Regions from separate parts of the Homo sapiens genome. Here region 1 is linked to region 2. Evidence: fine-mapped expression QTL. A gene starts in region 2. The other region holds a variant in brackets. All regions are shown on one strand. Distances are from middle to middle.

Region 1 (10,374 bases), 33 kb before region 2:
TCCGCTATGAGTAAAAGCTCCCTGAGGCCTCCCAGAAGCTGAGCAATGTGAGATTCCCGACTTGTACAGCCTGCAGAACTATAAGCCAATTAAACCTCTTTTATTTTTTTCTTTTCTTTTTTTTTTTTTTTGAGATGGAGTCTCGCTCTGTCACCCAGGCTGGAGTGCAGTGGTGCTATCTTGGCTCACTGCAACTTCTGCCTCCTGGGTTCAAGCGATTCTCCTGCCTCGGCCTCCCGAGTAGCTTGGATTACAGGAGCGTGCCACCATGCCCGGTTAATTTTTTTGTATTTTTAGTAGAGACAGGGTTTCACCATGTTGGCCAGGCTGGTCTCAAACTCCTGACATCAAGTGGTCATCCCACCTCAGCCTCACAAAGTGCTGGGATTACAGGCATGAGCCACCGTGCCTGGCCAAACTTCTTTTCTTATCAATTACCCAGTCTCAGGTGTTTCTTTTTAGCAGTGCAAGAATGGTCTAATACAGGAGTGAACCATGAACTGATCGTTCTCTGGTGGACAAAACAAAGGCATGCTAGCGAAGGCAGAAACTAATATCATTCATCTGCTTTCCAAACTCCAAAGAGGTTAATTCAGTATCAAAAAATTAATTTCTCAAAATTCACAGCTGTTTGCTAAAGTTACTCACTACACTTAACTTCATACTTGAATGCTGTTACTATTTATTGACATCAAAACAAAACAAGCTGAGACTAAAAGTTGCTATTTAACAGGAATAGACATCGGTGCAGTTTCCTTCCTGGAGAGGGTAGGCACTCAGATCATGAGACCTAAGATCAAACAAACTAGATTGTCAAGAATCCAACAAGGACTACATTTTACCTCTTAATAAAAAAAATGCTGGAGACAAAACAAGATGTTTAAAAATATTCTTCATGCCAAGCTTAGATAAGCAAATAAAAAACTAAAACTAATCCTAAAACTTGAGGATATTGGATACGGAAGTAACATGACTATTTAAATGTTTGCATCAATGAAAGTTTGTTCTATTCTTCCCTGTACTTGTACTACAAGGACATGCTTGTTGCTTCTATACTACCCAAAGTCAACAGTTATCATCAACAATTCAGTAGAAATAGATCAGAACAAGACTTCAAAGCGACTCTGCTCCACCAAAATTTAGAAACTCAATTTGGGATGAACAAAAGCTTTTGATTTTAGAACCAGCTCTTACTTTTCTCTCATGTCATATGTGATGAAGTCCTCACTTGACATTTCCCCCTGCAAATTGCAATGCATGTCCTTGCCATCATCTTTTTCTGACACTTTAATTTATAGAAATTGCAAAAGCAATGAAATTGTACTTCCAATTCTGAACCTCTGATCAGATTCCTGCTTTGAGGCAAAACTTACTCCTCTGCTGCACACTCCTCTACTCTTTTCTTTCTTTCTTTTTTTTTTTTTTTTTTTTTTTTGAGATGGAGTCTTACTCTGTTGCCCAGGCTGGAGTGCAGTGGCAAGATCACGGCTTACTGCAACCTCCGCCTCCTGAGTTCAAGCGATTCTCCTGCCTCAGCCTCCCGAGTACCTGGGACTACAGGCACCTGGCACCACGCCTGGCTAGTTCTTGTATTTTCAGTAGAGATGGGGTTTCACCATGTTGACCAGGCTGGTCTCAAACTCCTGACCTCAGGTAATCCACCCGCCTCGGCCTCCCAAGGTGCTGGGATTACAGGCGTGAACCATCACACCCAGCCTCTCCTCTTCTTTTGTATGGCTAATACAACTTTCCTGCTTTCTTTCTACTGCTGAATCTCCAGACTTGGTTATGTCATCAGGGTGCGAGAGTCGACCTTGGCTTCGAGCTCCTGGATGGTAACGCTGCATCCCTGGATGATTCTGAAGTACAATGAAATATGTTACTGTTACAACAATGCTGCTAAGCTTTTACGTGGGATTTTCAAGTCATAACTTATATATTAATATATACTAAAGTCCAGTCATTTAAGACCAAAAATGTGAAGGCATGGTAAATGACAACTTGCCCACTTCCTCTCTCCATTTCCAAAGAAAAGCAACCATTTCCTAATTATTATTTTATAAGCCTGGTACAACTTATTTTTCTTAGAGACATGGTCTCATTTTGTCACTCAGGCTGAAGTGCAAATGGCAAGATTGCAGCTCACAACAGCCTTGACATTCCAGACTCCAGCCATCCTCCCACCTCAGCTTCCTAGTAGCTGGAATTGCAGGCACGCTCTACCACACTGGGCTAAGTTTTAAAATTTTTAATAGAGATGGGGTCTCCCTATGTTATCCGGGCTGGCTTTGAACTCCTGAAGTTAAATGATTCTGCCACCTTGGCCTCCCAAATGCTAGGATTGCCTGCATAGACGAAGTTTCGCTCTGGTTGTCCAGGTTGGAGTGCAGTAGTGCAATCTCGGCTCACTGTAACCTCTGCCTCCCGGGTTCAAGCGATTCTCCTGCCTTAGTCTGCTGAGTAGCTGGGACTACAGGTGCACACCACCAAGCCCGGCTAATTTTTGTATTTTTAGTAGAGACGGGGTTTCACCACGTAGGCCAGGTTCATCTCCAACTGCTGACCTCAAGTGATCCACCTGCCTCGGCCTCCCAAAGTGCTGGGATTACAGGCATGAGCCACCATGCCTGGCCTATAGTTATTAAGGACATGAAATTATGCTTTATGAGGAAGTGGTCCTCACCCCCCTTGCCTGCAACACAAGAAAGGAGAGCAAGGGAGCAAAGTAGAAGAAAGGTGGCACTGGGGAAAGGATATCAATTCAAGACTGATGGTAAAAATTGCTTAGCAGGAGTGAAGGCTCTCCTGTGGTTTCACCAATTGATCTGCTTGAGGGATTTTCTCCAGCGACACTTGCAGCTTAGGGGCAAGAGGCTCCCACAACACCCTGTGCTACCGCGACCCTTCTGACATTGTGCATCATGATCTGATTATTGCTATTTGCCTCTTGCCAACACTGAAACATGAGTTCCACGTGCACAAGGACTTATTTGAATCCCTGACCCCAGGGCCTGGCACACAGTCAGTGATTGGTACATGTTTGCTAAATGAATGAGCAAATGGAAGAAATTGAAGAGGGTGGGGTGGGGATGGGTGATTTATCCAGAGCTGGACAGGCCAGGCAAGTAGAACAGAAGAGGGAGGTGCTGACATGAAAACAGGCTAGACAAAGAGGCAAGGATGTCAACTCATGCCTGGGGGTTCAGGAGTGTTGCTTCTCCTAAGGCCAACTCCTCTAACCTCTACCTTGGCTTCCATTTTCACCTGCCTTTGCAGGAAGCCTACAGTATTCGTTGTCTCTTTCTCTTGAGTATTCATCCTTGTAGAGCTTACCTTTTGGCTTCTAAACTTACTTACTTTCTCATATTTAAAATAAAGCTTCATTAACACCATTAACCTATGTATCTCCATTTCTTTCACAGCTATATTAATTGGTTTTCACACTAGTAGAAAAAATACCCAAGGCTGGGTAATATATAAAGAGAAGAGGTTTAATTATTTTATTTTATTTTTATTTATTTATAAAATAAATAAAATATGTGACGTAGTCTCGCTCTTGTCGCCCAGGCTGGAGTGCAATGGTGCGATCTCGGCTGACCACACTTCTGCCCTTCAGGTTTAGGCGCTTCTCCTGCCTCAGCCTCCTGAGTAGCTAGAATTACAGGCGGGCATAAGCACACCCAGCTAATTTTTGTATTTTTAGTAGAGATGGGTTTCGCCATGTTTGCCTGGCTGGTCTGGAACTCCTGACCTCAGGTGATCCACCGGCCTTGGTATCCCAAAGCTGGGATTACAGGGGTGAGCCACCAAGCCCAGCCGAAGAGGTTTAATTGACTCACAGTTCCACATGGCTGGGGGAGCCTCAGGAAACTTACAATCATGGCAGAAGGGGAAGTGGACACATGCTACATGGCAGCAGACTAGAGGTGAAGTGCGAGCATAGGAAAAACTGCCTTGTTTAAAACCATCAGATCTTGTGAGGCTTACTCACTATCACAAGATCAGCATGTGTGAGACTGCCCCAATAATCCAATCACCTCCTACCAAGCTCCTCCCTTGACACATGAGGATTACAGTTTAAGATGAGATTTGGGTGCGGGAACAGAGCTCAATCATATCAACAGTCATATGAGAAGTCTTCAAAAAGTCCATGGAAAATGTGTATTATCAAGAAACTATGCATGGATTGCAAAATCTTTTGGCATCAAAATAAACTGGTACTAACTCGTTAAAAAATATCTCGACAGGATCTAGTTTGAGGCATTAAAAAGGAGAAAGCATCAGTGTGAAAAGAGCTCCTATCAGCGAAAAATGGATTCTGCTAAAATTGAAGGAAGAACAAACATAAAATTTAAGATGAAGCTTGGGTGGAAGAACGGTAAAATCACTGATGCTTTACCAAAAGTTTATGGGGACAATGCCCCTAAAGAGATCAGCAGTTTACAAATGGATAACTTGTAAGAAAGGACAAAATGATGTTGAAGATGAAGCCTGCAGCAGCAGGTCATCCACATCAATATGCAAGGGAAAAAATTAGGCCAGGCGCAGTGGCTCACACCTGTAATCCCAGCACTTTGGGAGGCCGAGGCGGGTGGATCACAAGGTCAGGGGTTCAAGACCAGCCTGGCCAACATAGTGAAACCCCGTCTCTACTAAAAATACAAAAATTAGTTGGGTATGGTGGCATGAGCCTGTGGTCCCAGCTACTCAGGAGGCCGAGGCAGGAGAATCGCTTGAACCCAGGAGGCGGAGGTTGTGGTGAGCTGAGATCATGCCACTGCACTCCAACCTGGGCAACAGAATGAGACTCCGTCTTAAAAAACAACAACAACAAAAATCCTCTTCGTGCTTTAACTGAAAAGCATCGGCTGGGTGTGGTGGCTCACCCCTGTAATTCCAGCACTCTGGGAGGCCAAGGCGGGCGGGTCATCTGACCAACCTGGCCCACGTGGTGAAACCCTGTCTCTAATAAAAATACAAAAATTAACTGGGTGCGGTGGCAGGTGTCTGTAATTCCAACTACTTGGGAGGCTGAGGCAGGAGAATCATTGAACCCGGGAGGCAGAGGTTGCAGTGAGCCAAGATTGTGCCACTGGCCTCCAGCCTTCGTGAGAGACTAAGACCAACTATTAATGGCAGAAACAACAGCCATCACCATAGACATCACAATTGGTTCAGCTTACACAATTCTGACTGAAAAATTAAAAGTTGAGCAAACTTTCCACTTGATGGGT[G/A]CCAAAACCAGATCAGCTGCAGACAAGAACAGAGATTTCAACGGAAATTTTAAACAAGTGAGATCTATTACGTTGCTGCATATTAATTGTGGTTTATGCCATGGAATGTCAAAAGCCGCAATTACGTTGGCACCAACCAATAGATCATGAAGCATCTATTGGGAAAGTGTAACGGGAGGTGATACGTGGCTTTCCCAGTATGACTCTGAAGACAAAGCAATATCAAAGCAATGACTCTGAAGAGGTGGAAGAGATCCAGTCAAAGCAAAACTGGACTGGCCAAGAGCAAAGGTCATGGCAATAGTTTTTTGAGCTGCTTGAGCAACTCTCCTTATTGACTTTCTGGAGGGCCGAAGAATAGTAACACCAGCTTTTTTTTTTTTTTTTTTGAGACCAAATCTCACTCTGTCACCCAGGCTGGACTGCAGTGGTGCAATCTCGGCTCACTGCAACCTCTGCCTCCCAGGTTCAAGCTGTTCTCCTGCCTCAGCCTCCTGAGTAGCTGGGATTACAGGCACGCACCACCACGCCTGGCTAATTTTTGTATTTTTAGTAGAAACGAGGTTTCACCATGTTGGTCAGGCTTGTCTCGAACTGCTGACCTCGTGATCCTCCCATCTCGGCCTCCCAGAGTGCTGGGATTACAGGCATGAGCCACCGTGCCCGGCCAACACCTGCTTATTATAAGAGTGTTTTGAGAAGGCCAAAGCTTTAGCAGCAAAATGCCCAGGAAAGCTTCACCAGAGAGTCCTTTTCTACCACGGTAATGCTTCTGCTCGTGCCTCTCATCAAACAAGGGCAATTTTGAGAGTTTCAATGGGAAACCATTAGGCATCCACCTTACAGTCGGGATTTAGCTTCTTCTGTCACTTTTTTGTTTCCTAATTTTAAAAAGTCTGTAAAGGGCAACCATTTCTCTTCAGTTAATAATGTAAAAAAGATTTCATTGATGTGGTTAAATTCCAAGGACCTCCACTTCTTAGGGGATGGATGAAATGACTAGTATGTAATTGTTGTGAGCAAGAGACATACATACATACATAAATGGCTAGTTATCATTGCTTATGAAAGTGTCTTGACCTTGGTGGATCTTACGATGAGAAGTTTATATTTTTTTCTTTTATTTCTATTTTCCACAAACTTTTCTTTTCTATTTTTCCTTTTTTTTTTTTTTTTTTTTGAGATGGAGTCTGGCTCTGTCGCCCAGGCAGGAGTGCAGTGGCACGACCTTGGCTCACTGCAATCTCCGCCTCTTGGGTTCAAACGATTCTCTAGCCTCAGCCTCCCGACTAACTGGGATTACAGGAGCCCGCCACTGTGCCTGGCTAATTTTTGTATTTTTAGTAGAGACTGGGTTTCACCATGTTGGCCAGGTTTGTCTTGAATCCCTAACCTCAGGTGAAGTGCCCGCCTTGGCCTCCCAAAGTGCTGGGACTACAGGCATGTGCCACCTCAATCCCCTGCCTTTTTGTTGTGGGGAGGATGGAGTCTCCCTCTGTCGCTCAGGCAGGAGTGCAGTGGTGAGATCTAGGCTCACTACAACCTCTGCCTCCCGAGTTGAAGTGATTCTCCTGTCTGAGCCTCCTGAGAAGTTTGGACTACAGGTGTGCTCCACCAAGCCCGGCCAAATTTTTTTTTTGTATTTTTTGGTAGAGATGGGGTTTTACCATGTTGGCCAGGCTGGTCTCAAACTCCTGACCTCAGGTGATCCACCTACCTCAGCCTCCCAAAGTGCTGGGATTACAGGCATGTGCCACCAAGCCCGGCCTTTTTTTGGGTGTGGTGGTGAGGGGGGCAGATGGAGTCTAACTCTGTTGCTCAGGCAGGAGTGCAGGATTGAGATCTCTGCTCACTGGAACCTCTGCCACTCAAGTTCAAGTGATTCTCCTGCCTGAGCCTCCCGAGGAGTTTGGACTACAGGTGCGCTCCACCAAGCCTGGCCAATTTTTTTTTTTTTGTATTTTTTGGTAGAGATGGAGTTTCACCATGTTGGCCAGGCTGGTCTCGAACTCCTGACCTCAGGTGATCCAACCGCCTCAGCCTCCCAAAGTGCTGGGATTACAGGCATGAGCCACTGCCCCTGGCTTCTGTTCTTTTAAAAATCCATATAAAGCTGGACACGGTGGCTCATGCGTATAATCCCAGCACTTTTCGAGGCTACAGTGGACAGATTGTTTGAGCCCAGGCATCTGGCAAACAGATGCCATGTTAGGAAGGGCTGGCAGGATGAATGAAAATCAGGCAAAAGCTCAAGGATGTTGTCTAAACATTTTGTTCTTATGGGACCAGAACAGTTGATGTAGTTTTGAAATTTGTCCCCACCCAAATCTCATGGAAATATAATCCCCAGTGTTGTAGGTGGGGCCTGGTGGGGTATTGGGGTTATGGGGCGGATCCCTCATGGCTTGGTGCTGTCCTCTCCATAGTGAGTTCTTACAGATCAGGTTGTTGTAAAGTGTGGCACCTCCTTCCCACACTCACTCTCTTGCTCACTCTGTGATGTGACATGCCTGCTCCTGCTTCACTTTCCGCCATGAGTAAAAGGTCCCTGAGGCCTCCCAGAAGCTGAGCAATGTCAGATGCCATGCTTGTACAGCCTGCAGAACTGTGAACCAGTTAAACCTCTTTTCTTATAAACTACCCAGTCTCAGGCATTTATTTATAGCAATGCAAGAACGGCCTAATACAGGAGTGAACCATGAACTGATCTTTCTCTGGTGGACAAAACAAAGGCAATGCCTGTGAAGGCAGAAACTAACATTATTCATCTGCTTTTGATACTTCCAAGAGGCTAATACAGTATAAAAAATTTAATTTCTCAAAACTCACAGCTGGCTGGGCGTGGTGGCTCACGCCTGTAATCCCAGCACTTTGGGAGGCTGAGGCCGGTGGATCACGAGGTCAGGAGTTCAAGACCAGCCTGGCCAAGATGGTGAGACCCCCATCTCTACTAAAAATACAAAAAATTAACCAGGCGCGGTGGCAGGTGCCTGTAGTCCCAGCTACTCAGGAGGCTGAGGAAGGAGAATAATTTGAACCCGGAGGGTGGAGGTTGCAGTGAGCCGAGATTGTGCCACTGCACTCCAGCCTGGGTGACAGAGTGAAACTCTGTCTCAAAAAAAAAACAAAAAAAACAAAAAAAACCTCACAGCTGTTTACTAAAGTTACTCACCACACTTAGCTTCATACTTGACTGCTGTTACTATGTATTGACATCAGAACAAAACAAACTGAAACTAAAAGTTGATATGTAACAACAACAGACATTGGTGCAGTTTCCTTCCTGGAGAGGGTAGGCACCAGATCATGAGACCTGAGATAAAACAAACTAGATTGTCAAGAATCCAACAAGGACTACATTTTACCTCTTAATAGAAAAAATGCTGGAGACAAAACGAGATGTTTAAAAATATTCTTCATGCTAAGCTTATGTAAGCAAATAAAAAAACAAAAGTAACCCTAAAATGTTAGGACATTGGATACAGAAGTAACATGACTATTTAAATGTTTGCATCAATGAAAGTTTGTTCTATCCTTCCCTGTACTTATAGACAAGGACATGCTTGTTGCTTCTACACTACCCAAAGTCAACAGTTATCATTAGCAATGCAATAGAAATAGATGGGAATAAAGCTTCAAAGCGACTCTGCTCCACCAAAATTTAGAAATTCAATTCAGGATGAACAACAGCTTTTGATTTTAAAACCAGCTCTTACTTTTCTCTCGTGTCACACGTGATGAAGTCCTCACTTGACATTTCCCCTGCAAATTGCAATGCATGTCCTCGCCATCAGCATTTTCTGACACTTTAATTTATAGAAATTGCAAAAACAATAAAATTGTACTTCCAATTCTGAACCTCCGACCAGATTCCTTCTTTGAGACAAAACTTACTCTTCTGCTGCGTACTCCTCTCCTCTTTATTTTTTTTTAATTTTTTTGGAGATAGAGCCTCCCTAGTGTCACCCAGGCTAGAGTGCAGTGGCACGATCATGGCTTACTGCAACCTCCACCTCCTGAGTTTAATCAATTCTCCTGCCTCAGCCTCTCGAGTACCTGGGACTACAGGCGCCTGCCACCAAGCCCGGCTAATTTTTGTAGTTTTAGTAGAGACTGGGTTTCACCATGTTGGCCAGGCTGGTCTCAAAGTCCTGACCTCAGGTGATCCACCCATATCGGCCTCCCAAAATGCTGGGATTACAGGCATGAGCCACCACGCCCGGCCTCTCCTCTTCTTTTCTATGGCTAATACCACTTTCCTGCTTTCTTTCTACTGCTGAATCTCCAGACTTGTCATCAGGGTGCCAGAGTCGACCTCGGCCTCGAGCTCCTCGATGGTAACACTGCATCCATGGACAGTCCTGAAGTACAATGAAATATGTTACTGTTACAACAATGCTACTAAGCTTTTACATGAGATTTTTAGGTTATACCTTATATATTAATATATACTAAAGCCCAGTCATTTAAGACCAAATATATGAGGGCATGGTAAATGACAACTTGCCCACTTCCTCTCTCCATCTCCAAAGAAAAGCAACCATTTCCTAATTATTATTTTTTATGTCTGGTTAAATTTATTTTCTTTGGAGACAGGGTCTCACTGTGTCAGCCAGGCTGCAGTGCAAGTGGCATGATCCAGCTTCGACATTCCAGACTGAAGGAATCCTACCACCTCAGCTCCCTAGTAGCTGGGATCGCAGGCCCGTGCTACCACATTGGGTTTTTAAATTTTAGCAGAGACGGGGTTGCCCTATGTTGCCCAGGCTGTTCTAGAACTCCTGAAGTTAAATGATCCTCCTACCTTGGCCTCCCAAATGCTAGGGTTACCTGCAGGAGCCATCACGCCTGGCCCATTTCTTTTCTTTTTTTCCTCTTTTTTTTTTTTTTTTTTTGTCTGAGACAGAGTCTTGCTCTGTTGCCCAGACTGGAGTACAGTGGTGTGATCTCGGCTCACTGCAACTTCTGCCTCCCCAGTTCAAGCGATTCTCCTGCCTCAGTCTCCCAAGTAGCTGGGACTACAGGCATGCGCCACCATGCCCGGCTAATTTTTGTATTTTTAGTTGGGACAGGGTTTTACCATGTTTTTCAGGCTGATCTCACACTCCTGACCTCAAGTGATCTGCTCGCATTGACCTCC
Region 2 (10,374 bases):
GCACAGGCAACAAAAGTAAAAATACAGAGGGTAGATCTCATGTTAAGTGTTCTTACCACAATAAAACAAAAATATAAAGTATATCTCTTATTTAAAAAAAGTAAAAAATAGATAAATTGGACTACGTCAAAATTAGAAACTTCTATGCATCAAAAGACACAATCAACAGAGTGAAAAGGCAACCCATGGAATGGGAGAAATATTTGCAAATTATATTATCTGATAAGGGGTAATATCGAGAATATATAAAGAACTCCTATAACTCAACAACAAAAAACCAAATAACCCAATTTAAAAAATGGTCAAAAGACTTGAATAGACATTTCTTCAAAGATAATATACAAATGGCTAACAAGCATATGGAAATATGTTCCACATTACTAGTCATTAGGGAAATGCAAATCAAAACCACAATGAGGTATCATCTCACGCCTATTAGGAGGACTACTATCAAAAAGCAGAAAATAACAAGTGTTGGCAAAGATGTGGAGAAACTGGAACACTCATGTATTGGTGGGAATGTAAAATGATGCAGCTGCATGGAAAACAGTATGGCAGTTCCATAAAACATTAAAAATAGAATTATTGGGCCAGCCTGACTAACATGGTAAAACCCCATCTCTACTAAAAATACAAAAATTAGCTGGGTGTGGTGGTGGGCACCTGTAATCCCAGCTACTCAGGAGGCTGAGGCAGGAGAATTGCTTGAACCCAGGAGGTGGAGGTTGCAATGAGGGAAGATCGCGCCATTGTACTTACTCCAGCCTGGGCAATGAGGGCGAAATTCCATCTCAAAAAAACAAAACAAAACAAAAAAGAACTACCGGCGGGGCACAGTGGCTCACACCTGTAACCTCAGCACTTTGAGAGGCCGAGGTGGGCGCATCACTTGAGGTCAGGAGTTTGAGACCAGCCTGGCCAACATGGTGAAACTCCGTCTCTACCACAAACATAAAAAATTAGCAGGGTGTGGTGGCAGGTGTCTGTAATCCCAGATACTTGGGAGGCTGAGGCAGGAGAATTGCTTGCACCTGGGAGGTGGAGGTTGCAGTGAGCCAAGATCATGCCACTGCACTCCAGCCTGTGTGACAGAGACTCTGTCTCAAAATAAATAAATAATAAAATAAAAATAGAATTACCAAATGACTCCAGAAATTCCATTTCTCGGTATATATCCAAAAGCAGTGAGAACAAGGACTCGAATATGTGCACATCTGTGTTCATAACAATATTGTTCACAATAGCCAAGAGTGGAAGCAACTCGAATACCCCTTGACAGATGAATGGATACACAAAATGTGGTATATACATATACTGGAATATTAGTCTTAAAAATGAGGCTGGGGGCAGTGGCTCATGCCTGTAATTCCTAGCATTTTGGGAGGCTGAGGCAGGCATGTCACTTCAGGTCAGGAGTTTGAAACTAGCCTGGCCAACACAGTGAAACCCCATCTTTACCAAAAGTACAAAAAAATTAGCCAGCTGTGGTGGTGGGTACCTGTAATCCCAGCTACTTGGGAGGCTGAGGCTGGAGAATTGCTTGAACCCAGGAAGCGGAGGTTGCAGTGAGCTGAGATCGCGCCACTGCATTCCAGCCTGGGCAACAAAGTGAGACTCCATCTCAAAAAAAAAAAAAAAAAAAAAAAAGATGAAAATTCTGACACATGCTACGACATGGATACACCTTGAAGATATTATGCTAAATGAAATAAGCCAGACAGACACTGTATGTTTCCACCTATATGTGGTACCTACAGTAGTGAAACTCATACAGACACAAGGTATAATGGTGGTTGCCAGGGGCTGGAGGAAGGGAAATAAGGAGTTGTTTAATGGGTAAAGAGTTTCAGTTTTTCAAGATGAAAAAGTTCCCAAGATTGTTGCACAACAGTGTGAATATACCTTAATGCTACTGAACTGTACACTTAAAATGGTTAAGATGGTAAATTTTATGTTACGTGTATTTTTACAATTTTTAAAAATGCAAAAGGAATGAGGTAATGATATATGTTATATGTTACAACATGGATGGACCTTGAAAACATTGTGCTAGGTAAAAGAAGCCAGTCAGAAAAGACCACATATTGTATGATTACATTTATATGAAATGGAGGGAAATCATAGATACATAAAGTAGATTAGTGGTTGCCAGGGGCTGGAGGGAGAGAATGGGAGGTAACTACTAATAGATATGGGTTTCTTTTTGGAGGGATGAAAACATTCTGGAATTAGTACTGATGGTTGTACTACCTTGTGAATATACCAGAAACCACTGAATTGTACGCTTTAAGAGGATGAATTTTATTATAGGTGAGTTATATTTCAATACAAAAACCCCAAGTGACTAATGGGAAAAAAATTCACAAGCACCCTGTCACAGAATGTCAAAAACAAGGTATCCTATCCTTAAATCATTGGCATGTAGACATAAGCAGAAAAATAAAAATAAACAGAATTGACCAGAAGGCACTGCAAAGCAGTCATGGAGGAAAAATTATGTTGGGAATCCCAGTGAGTAGAGAATCAGATTAGCTTCAAAACTGTGATATATTAGGCCAGGCATGGTGGCTCACGCCTGTAATCCCAGCACTTTGGGAGGCTGAGGCGGGTGGATTGCTTGAGGCCAGGAGTTTGAGACCAGCCTGGCCAACATGGTGAAACCCCATCTCCTAAAATTACAAAAATTAGCTGGGCGTGGCGGCACACACCTGTAATCCCAGCTAAGTCGGCAGGCTGAGGAACGAGAATTGCTTGAACCCAGGAGGCGGAGGTTGTAATGAGCCAAGATTGTGCCACTGTACTCCAGCCTGGGCGACAGAGTTAAGACTCTGTCTCAAAAAAAAAAAGAGAGAGAGAGAGAAGAAAAAGAAAAAAAACAAAAATAAAAACCAAAAAACAAAACTGTGATATATTTGAGAAGGAATAGATAAACCAGACTGAAACAGAGGGAAATTGTGGAAGACAGGCTGAAGAAACAGAAGTGAGGCCAGAATATGGAGGACCCTGACTACCAGGCTAAGGAGTTTGGACTTTTTCCCCCAACTGTTAATTTAAATCATTATTTTCAAAAAGATTAATTTCATGGCAATATAATAGACTGAATTATACAAGAATGAAAAAAATGGAAAATCCTGTAAGTTTAGAGACAGTGGTTGTCTAGGCATTAAGTGATGAGGACATAAAGTGTGACTGTTTAAGGCTAGGTGAACAAGATATTAAAAAAAAACAATAAAATCCAGCCTGGGCAACATAAGCAGACCTTGTCTCTAAGATTTAAAAACAAAACAAAACAAACAAACAAACAAAAAACACAATGAGGAAAGGATAGTCTCTTTAATAAGTGGTGTTGAGCTGGGTATGGTGGCTCGCACCTGTAATCCCAGCACTTTGGGAGGCTGAGGTGGGGGGGGGGAAATCACTTGAGCCCAGGAGTTCAAGACCAGCCTGGGCAACGTAGTGAGACCCCATCTCTATAAAAAATTTAAAGAAAATTAGCCAGGCATGGTGACATACATCTGTAGTCCCAGCTACTCAGGAGGCTGAGGTGGGAGGATTGCTTGAGTCCAGGAATTCCAGGCTGCAGTGAGCTCTGATTGCGCCACAGCACTCCAGCCTGGGTGGAGACCCTATCTCAAAAGATAAACAATAAATTGACAAGATTCATAACTTACATGTAAGAGATTTTTAAAAAAGGAAAAAATTAAACACAACTCAGATTTCCAGGCTAAGTAACTAGAATCTAGTTAAATATCTACTGGAATAAAATAGTTGGAGTGGAAAAATAGCTGGCTTGGGGAGATTAATAAAAGTTGGACAAACAGTGGCAATCCTTCAATTTTTACTGGCATAGTCCCTGACAAAAATTTAATTTTTACCAACTTTGAAGTAATATTGAAAAAAACAAAACAAAACAAGAAGACACACTATTTACCTATAATTGCAAACCAAAAAGAAAAGTGGCAAATGGCAGCTTAGATATTCTCTGGCTAAATGTAGGTAGCAGATAATAGAGTGTTAAAGTAGAAATGTGTCTTCCCTATAGACTGGACCTTTCTGGATATAAAGTAAGAGATGTATCAAGTTTCTTTTTTTCGATTTTGAGACAGAGTCTCGCTCTGTCGCCAGGCTGGAGTGCAGTGGCGTGATCTCAGCTCACTGCAACCTCTGCCTCCCAGGTTCAAGCGATTCTTCTGCCTCAGCCTCCCAAGTAGCTGGGATTACAGGCGTGGACCGCCACGCCTGGCTAATTTTTTTAGCATTTTTAGTAGAGATGGGGTTTCACCACGTTGGCCAGGCTGGTCTCGATCTCCTGACCTCGTGATCCACCTGCCTCGGCATCCCAAAGTGCTGGGATAACAGGCGTGAGCCACCACACCAGGCCGAGATGTATCAAGTTTCATGTTTTAATTATATACAACTTTGTGAGAATGTTAAACAGTATCCCAATTGGGAACTGTTGGCTTAATGGATTTGAATTAAATAAATGTTTGTCCTCGAAGCAAAATAAGAAGTAAATATTTAAAACTTATCAAACAAGTTTAAGAGTCACTTATCAGTACTGCGGCTGAAATTCTACAGTCAAAACAGCAGGTTTAAGCCAGGGCAAAAAATGTGTCACACGAGGAGAAAACAGTTGCAATTTCACTCAGTTGATCAAACTAAAAAAATAGTAGGTTAATAAAAATAACCAAGGACTGTGAAAAGTCACGTCTATTTATAAGACTGCAATAAGCTTATTAAATGTGTAAAACTCTAGGAAGCAACGCAATGCACGAGTTGTCTTAAACATACAAATGACAAAGAAATTCCCTTTTTACTTCAGTTACCAGGACTCACCTTTATTGTCAAGGAATACATAACCATCAAAGCGATCCCTGAACAAAATAATGTCCTCTTGGTTTTTAAAGTTGATGTATGCTCTGGCATACATATGAGGATACAAACTGCAGAGAGGAAAGCAATTATGTAAATGTACTCGCAGGTGTCTGGCCCAATTACAAGTATGCATATATTAAAGACAAGCTCAAAAATCAAATGAAAAACAGTAGGATAAAAAGAATGAAAGAAACCTTTTTCATTTACCCCTTTCCTTTTTTTTTTTTTTTTACCTCGTATCATTAGAAAAAAACTCAAAATAATCATGCTCAGGCATAGGTTGAAGATGTTCCTGAAGCTGCTCCTTGGTCAAAGTGGGAGGTAATCTTCGAATTACCACCTTAAGAAATGCATAAGGAAAATAAAATTAGTACAAATCAGTTTTCTGTCATACCTGAAAGAATCACAGTTCCTGAAGAAGGCTGGGCTTTAAAATATGAGATCACTTGTAAAAACCCAGGAGAAAATATTCTTCTGCAGCCCAATGCTCAGAATTAGTCAAACATAATAGTAACGCGGTTTAAAAAAACCCTTGGAAATGAGAACCACCTGGAGCAAGGAAAAATCGCAGGTTTTGCTCTTTACAGCAGCCCTGCAGTTTACCAGGTTTGTGCATCATTTTCGATCACCCATTTTTTAACAGATCTAGTGGCAATAACTTAGTAAGCCAACGCTGGTCTTTGTGGGTGCCACGAAATCTTGATTTAGCAACAAGTTTCTCCCACGTCCAACACATCTTAAAACAAAATCCTTGCCCATTGAACTTAAGAATTCAAAACTCTAACGAATACAAAAAATCTACCCATTGCTCTCAAAATAGGATGCTCTCGATCTACCCTCCTGTACCATTAATCACCCTGCACTCTCCCCCAACTCGCCTCCATGAATAATATTCCCATCCCTCATGTCTCCTTCACTATTTAATATTTCTCCCCAATTACACCTTTAGTTCCTCATTCTTTATACCGTCGCTCTTCCCTCCCATTATCATCTCACAGCTCTGACCTAAACCCTTCCCGTTTGGGGAGTCCCCTCTTTTCCTCACCCCCACCCAGGATTTGGCCGGGAGGGGCTCTCCCCATTTCGGGTGAATGGATGAACCAGGATGATGCGACTTCCATTCAGGCGAAGAGATAGAAGGAGAACCTGAGAAAGAAAGGGGGCAGCCCCATTCCCAGCCATCCTCCCCGCGCTGCGGACTCGTCCCGCCCTCTCCCGGGCCAGCGGCCGACCGGGCACCTTGCTCAGCGCTTCTTTCTTCTCCTTGTTGCGATCCTGCTTATCTTCCCCCTTGGAGCTGTCCCCCGAGGTCCCACCACCGCTGCCTGTGGCCCCGGCGGGGGTTAACAGGGTTACTCGCTTCTCCTTAGGCCTGTGCTCCTTCTCTTCCTTCATGGCTACGTCCCCCGCTGAAGCGGCTTGGCCGGAACGGGGTTACCCCGGGCACAAACGGCTCCCGGGAAGCTCCCGTCAAAGCTCCGCCCCCAACAAATGCCCCTTGTGATAAGTCGGGCCCCACGTTCCATTGGGTCCTGCCAAGCTCTCGCGAGACTTGGGCCTTTCCCAGTGCAAAGGTTTTAACACCTGGTTTTTACTTCCCGCCCGCCAAGTTCCTGCGCCACCCAATCCCCTCGCGGCCCAGACTCCCTCGGGGCCCGCCCCTTCGCGCGTCATTAGCAATTCCGCCATCTTGAAGTGACTCTGTCGGGGACTACAAATCCCGGCATACAAAGCAGCTACCCGCTTTTGTTGGGCGTTCAGGGGCCAGAGCTATCTCAGGGTCCCTGTTTGTGAGTAAATCGAATCCTTTCATCTTCAGAGTTTTCCAGGTCGAAAGATAGGTTCTTCACGCTTAGTTTCCATCAGATAAACTCAATGCCGTCCAAATTTTGCCTCACTAGGGGAGCGACTTGTATTTTTTATCATTGAATTCAGAGGCTTTAGCATTTATTTTCCTACAACTAAAAGAAAAAGCCTAACATTTAAAAAACTTTATTTTCCTTATATTGATTAGGATTTACAGATACTTAGTAAATACTACAATATTAGCCGAGTTCAGTGGCGCACGCCTGTAGTCCCAGCTGCTCGGGAAGGTTGAGAAGAGAGGATCTTGAGCCCAGGAATTCGAGGCTGCAGTGAGCCATGATCGCGCCGCTGCACTCCAGCTTGGGCGACAGAGCGAGACCCTGTATATAAAAAAGAAGGATAATAATAAATAAACACAAGATACTGATATTTAAAGGAGTAATATGACTAAAATATACAAGATTTGTTTTCATCACCTTATTTTAGCAAAAGGATCCTTCTCCCCAGGTACTGATGTCCCACAGGGAGGGGAATAAAAATAAAACCCAACTTGATTTAGTTGCGATCACCATCTTCACTTAAAAAGGGCCAATTTTACATTATTTATAATAACTCCAAACTGGAAACAATCCAAATGTGAATCTAACAGTGATTATGTTGAGTGACAGAATCTAGACACAGAGTACATGTTGTACAATTCCATTTATATGAAATTTTAGAAAAATAAAACCACAGTGATAGAAAGCAGATCAGTCGGCCAGGCGTGGTGGCTCACGCCTGTAATCCCAGCACTTTAGGAGGCCAAGGTGGGTGGATCACCTGAGGTCAGGAGTTCGAGACCAGCCTGGCTAACTTGGCGAAACCCTGTCTCTACTAAAAACAAAAAAAATTAGCAGGGCGTGGTGGCACATTCCTGTAATCCCAGCACTTTGAGAGGCCGAGGCCGGCGGATCACCTGAGATCAGGAGTTCGACACCAGCCTGGCCAACTTGGTGAAACCCTGTCTCTACTAAAATACAAAAATTATCTGGGCATGGTGGCAGGCGCCTGTAGTCCCAGCTATTTGGGAGGCTGAGGCAGGAGAGTCACTTGAACCTGGGAGGCGGAGGTTGCAGTGAGCCGAGGTTGTGCCACCGCACTCCAACCTGGGTGACAGAGTGAGACTCCATCTCAAAAAGAGAGAGAGACACAGACACCCATAGAGGACAGAAACCAAATTAAAGATGCAATAGGAGCCCAAGGCAGAAAGCTGCCTAAGGGCCAACTCCCATTTTTGCCGACCTCTAGAATATATTCCCCTGACTCTGCACTTAAATTTTCTCACTCCAATTGTCCAGCCTATTCTTGGATTCCTATTCCTGTGGCTAAAACGGTTTCCCTGTATTTGACATCTGTTACTCTTGCTTTCAGTACCTGGCCGTTCTTATGAGCCTTGTTTATGCATCTGCCTCTGACCTACTGCTTAGCTCTGCACTTGCATGTTGGTAGTGTATGCCTCTGTTTTGGTGTCCTCACTAGCTTTAAACCACCAGCTGTTTGTCAGTTGCCAGAATAAAGTGTCCCAGGGCTCAGTCCTTAGACCTCTTTTCTATGTACACTCACTCCTTTATTAATCTCATTCATTCTTTTGGCTTTTCTGTCTTTGCTGACAACTCTACTCTAGAATTTACATGTCCAGGCCGGGCGTGGTGGCTCACAGCTGTAATCTCAGCACTTTGGGAGGCCGAGGCGGGTGGATCACCTGAGGTCGGGAGTTCGAGACCAGCCTGGCCAACATGTGACATCCCGTCTCTACTAAAAATACAAAAAAATTAGCCGGGCGTGGTGGCAGGCAGCTATAATCCCAGCTACTCAGGAGGCTGAGGCAGGTGATTCGCTTGAACCCAGGAGGTCGAGGTTGCAGTGAGCCGAGATTGTGCCAGTGCACTCCAGTCTGGGCGACAGAGCGAGACTCCGTCTCAAAACCAAAACAAAACAAAAAAAGAATTTACATCTCCAGCCCATACCTCCCTGATGATTTCCAGAGTCATGTATCCAACTGCCTATTGAACATCTCCACTTAAGACGTCTAACGTGTTCAGCCACCGAATGCATCCAAAACTGAACACTTGATCTTCCCCCACACCAACTGTATTAGCCTCCTATTCCTGCTGTAACATTACCACAAATTTAGTGGGTTTAAATAATGCAAGTGTATTATCTTACAGTTCTGTAGGTTAAAAGTCCAACAAGGTTTTAGCTTTGTCCTGTGAGGGGGCAAAAAAATATAGTAATAATAAATAAACAAACAGTCCAATATGGGTCTCACTGGGCTAAAATCAAGGTGTTGGCAGGACTGAGTTCCTTCCTGGAGGCTCTAGGAGATAATAGATTTCCTTGTCTTTTTCAGATTCTTGAGGCGGCCCATATTCCTTGGCTTATGAACCCTTCGTCTTCAAGCATCTCTCTCTGACCCTGCCCCTACTTCTGTCTATTGTCTATATCTCTTTTATTCTCTGCCTTGCCATTCCAAGTTTTTTTTTCAGGGTCACAGTTCACTGAAGGCTTAAACTCCTGAGCTGAAGTGATCCTCCTGCCTTAGCCTCCCAAATAGCTGGGACTACAGGTGCATGCCACCATGCCCAGCTAATTTATTTTCATTTTTGTAGAGAAGGGGTCTCACTGTGTTGCCCAGGCTGGTCTCCAACTCCTGGCCTCTGCACTTTCCCCTTTCACTTTGAAGGACTCCTGTGTTTACATTGTGTCCGCCTGTAAAATCCAGGATAATCTCCCTATTTTAAGGACAGCTGATTAGCAACATTAATTTCCTTTTGCTATATAACCTAACACAGTCATGGGTTCTGGGGATTAGGATGTGTACAACTTTGGGGGAGATATTATTCTACCTAACACATACTGTAGACTTCCTTTTTGATGAAACTTTTAATTGCAGTATAACAGATGTACAGACAAGTGCACTAAAAGTAAGCATCCAGCTTGCTGAATTTTCACAAAGTGAACACACTTATGTAACCAGCATGTAGATCAAGAAACAAAACATTGCCAGCACTCCAGATGCTCTCTTCCTACTTGTTCCCAGTCATTTTCGCCACCAAGAATACCACTATCCTTTTTGCTTTTTCTTTTTTAGCAGCTACATCCTTTTATGAATGACTTCTAATACTATTGAGTTTGTCTGTTTTGAACTTTATGTAAATTGAATCATACAGCATGTATTCTTTTATGTTAGGCTCCTTTCTCTCAACATTTATGACTGAGATTTCTTTATTTATTTATTTAGAGACGGAATCTCGCTCTGTCGCCCAGGCTGAGGTGCAGTGGCGCCATCTTGGCTTACATCTTGGCTCACTGCAACCTCCACCTCCCGGGTTCAAGCGATTCTTCTGCCTCAGCCTCCCGAGTAGCTGGGAGTACAGGCGTGTGCCACCACGCCCGGCTAATTTTTGTATTTTTAGTAGAAATGGGGTTTCACCATATTGGCTGTTGGATACAGTGAGATCTAGATCTCTCTTCAAAGAATCAGTATGTCAGTATGTTCAGTTCTTTGTCCTCCATTGTAAAGTTTAACTTCCTCGTAGTTTCAGTAAACAACATTTTCCACCAGTTTTCATCAGTAGTTCACATCTGTTCCCCTGGTTACCTGCTCCGTCCTGACTCACCCCGGTCATCCGCTTTGACCTGAGTCACCCCTGG

Direction of the effects. Positions count from the first base shown, and alleles are read on the strand shown. Sizes are in standard deviations (SD) of each study's normalised expression.
For the expression in fibroblasts of the gene that starts at base 6,305 in region 2, A is the low allele of the variant in region 1 and G is the other (small effect, 0.25 SD a copy in GTEx).

What was found.
Region 1: its variant is fine-mapped to the expression of UPF3B in fibroblasts (GTEx, PIP above 0.99).

Annotation. Positions count from the first base shown.
Region 1 is chrX:119,813,449-119,823,822 of GRCh38, forward strand. It overlaps a transcript of UPF3B not described here and the pseudogene LOC100422368. Among named protein-coding and RNA genes, the nearest start is that of RPL39, 27 kb to the left of the region's middle. The variant G/A (reference allele first, on the strand shown) is at 5,235.
Region 2 is chrX:119,846,659-119,857,032 of GRCh38, forward strand. UPF3B (UPF3B regulator of nonsense mediated mRNA decay) reads right to left here and starts at 6,305. Exons shown (of 11, transcript NM_080632.3): 1 at 6,115-6,305; 2 at 5,109-5,215; 3 at 4,837-4,943. The coding sequence starts at 6,270. RefSeq lists an enhancer at 6,280-6,339.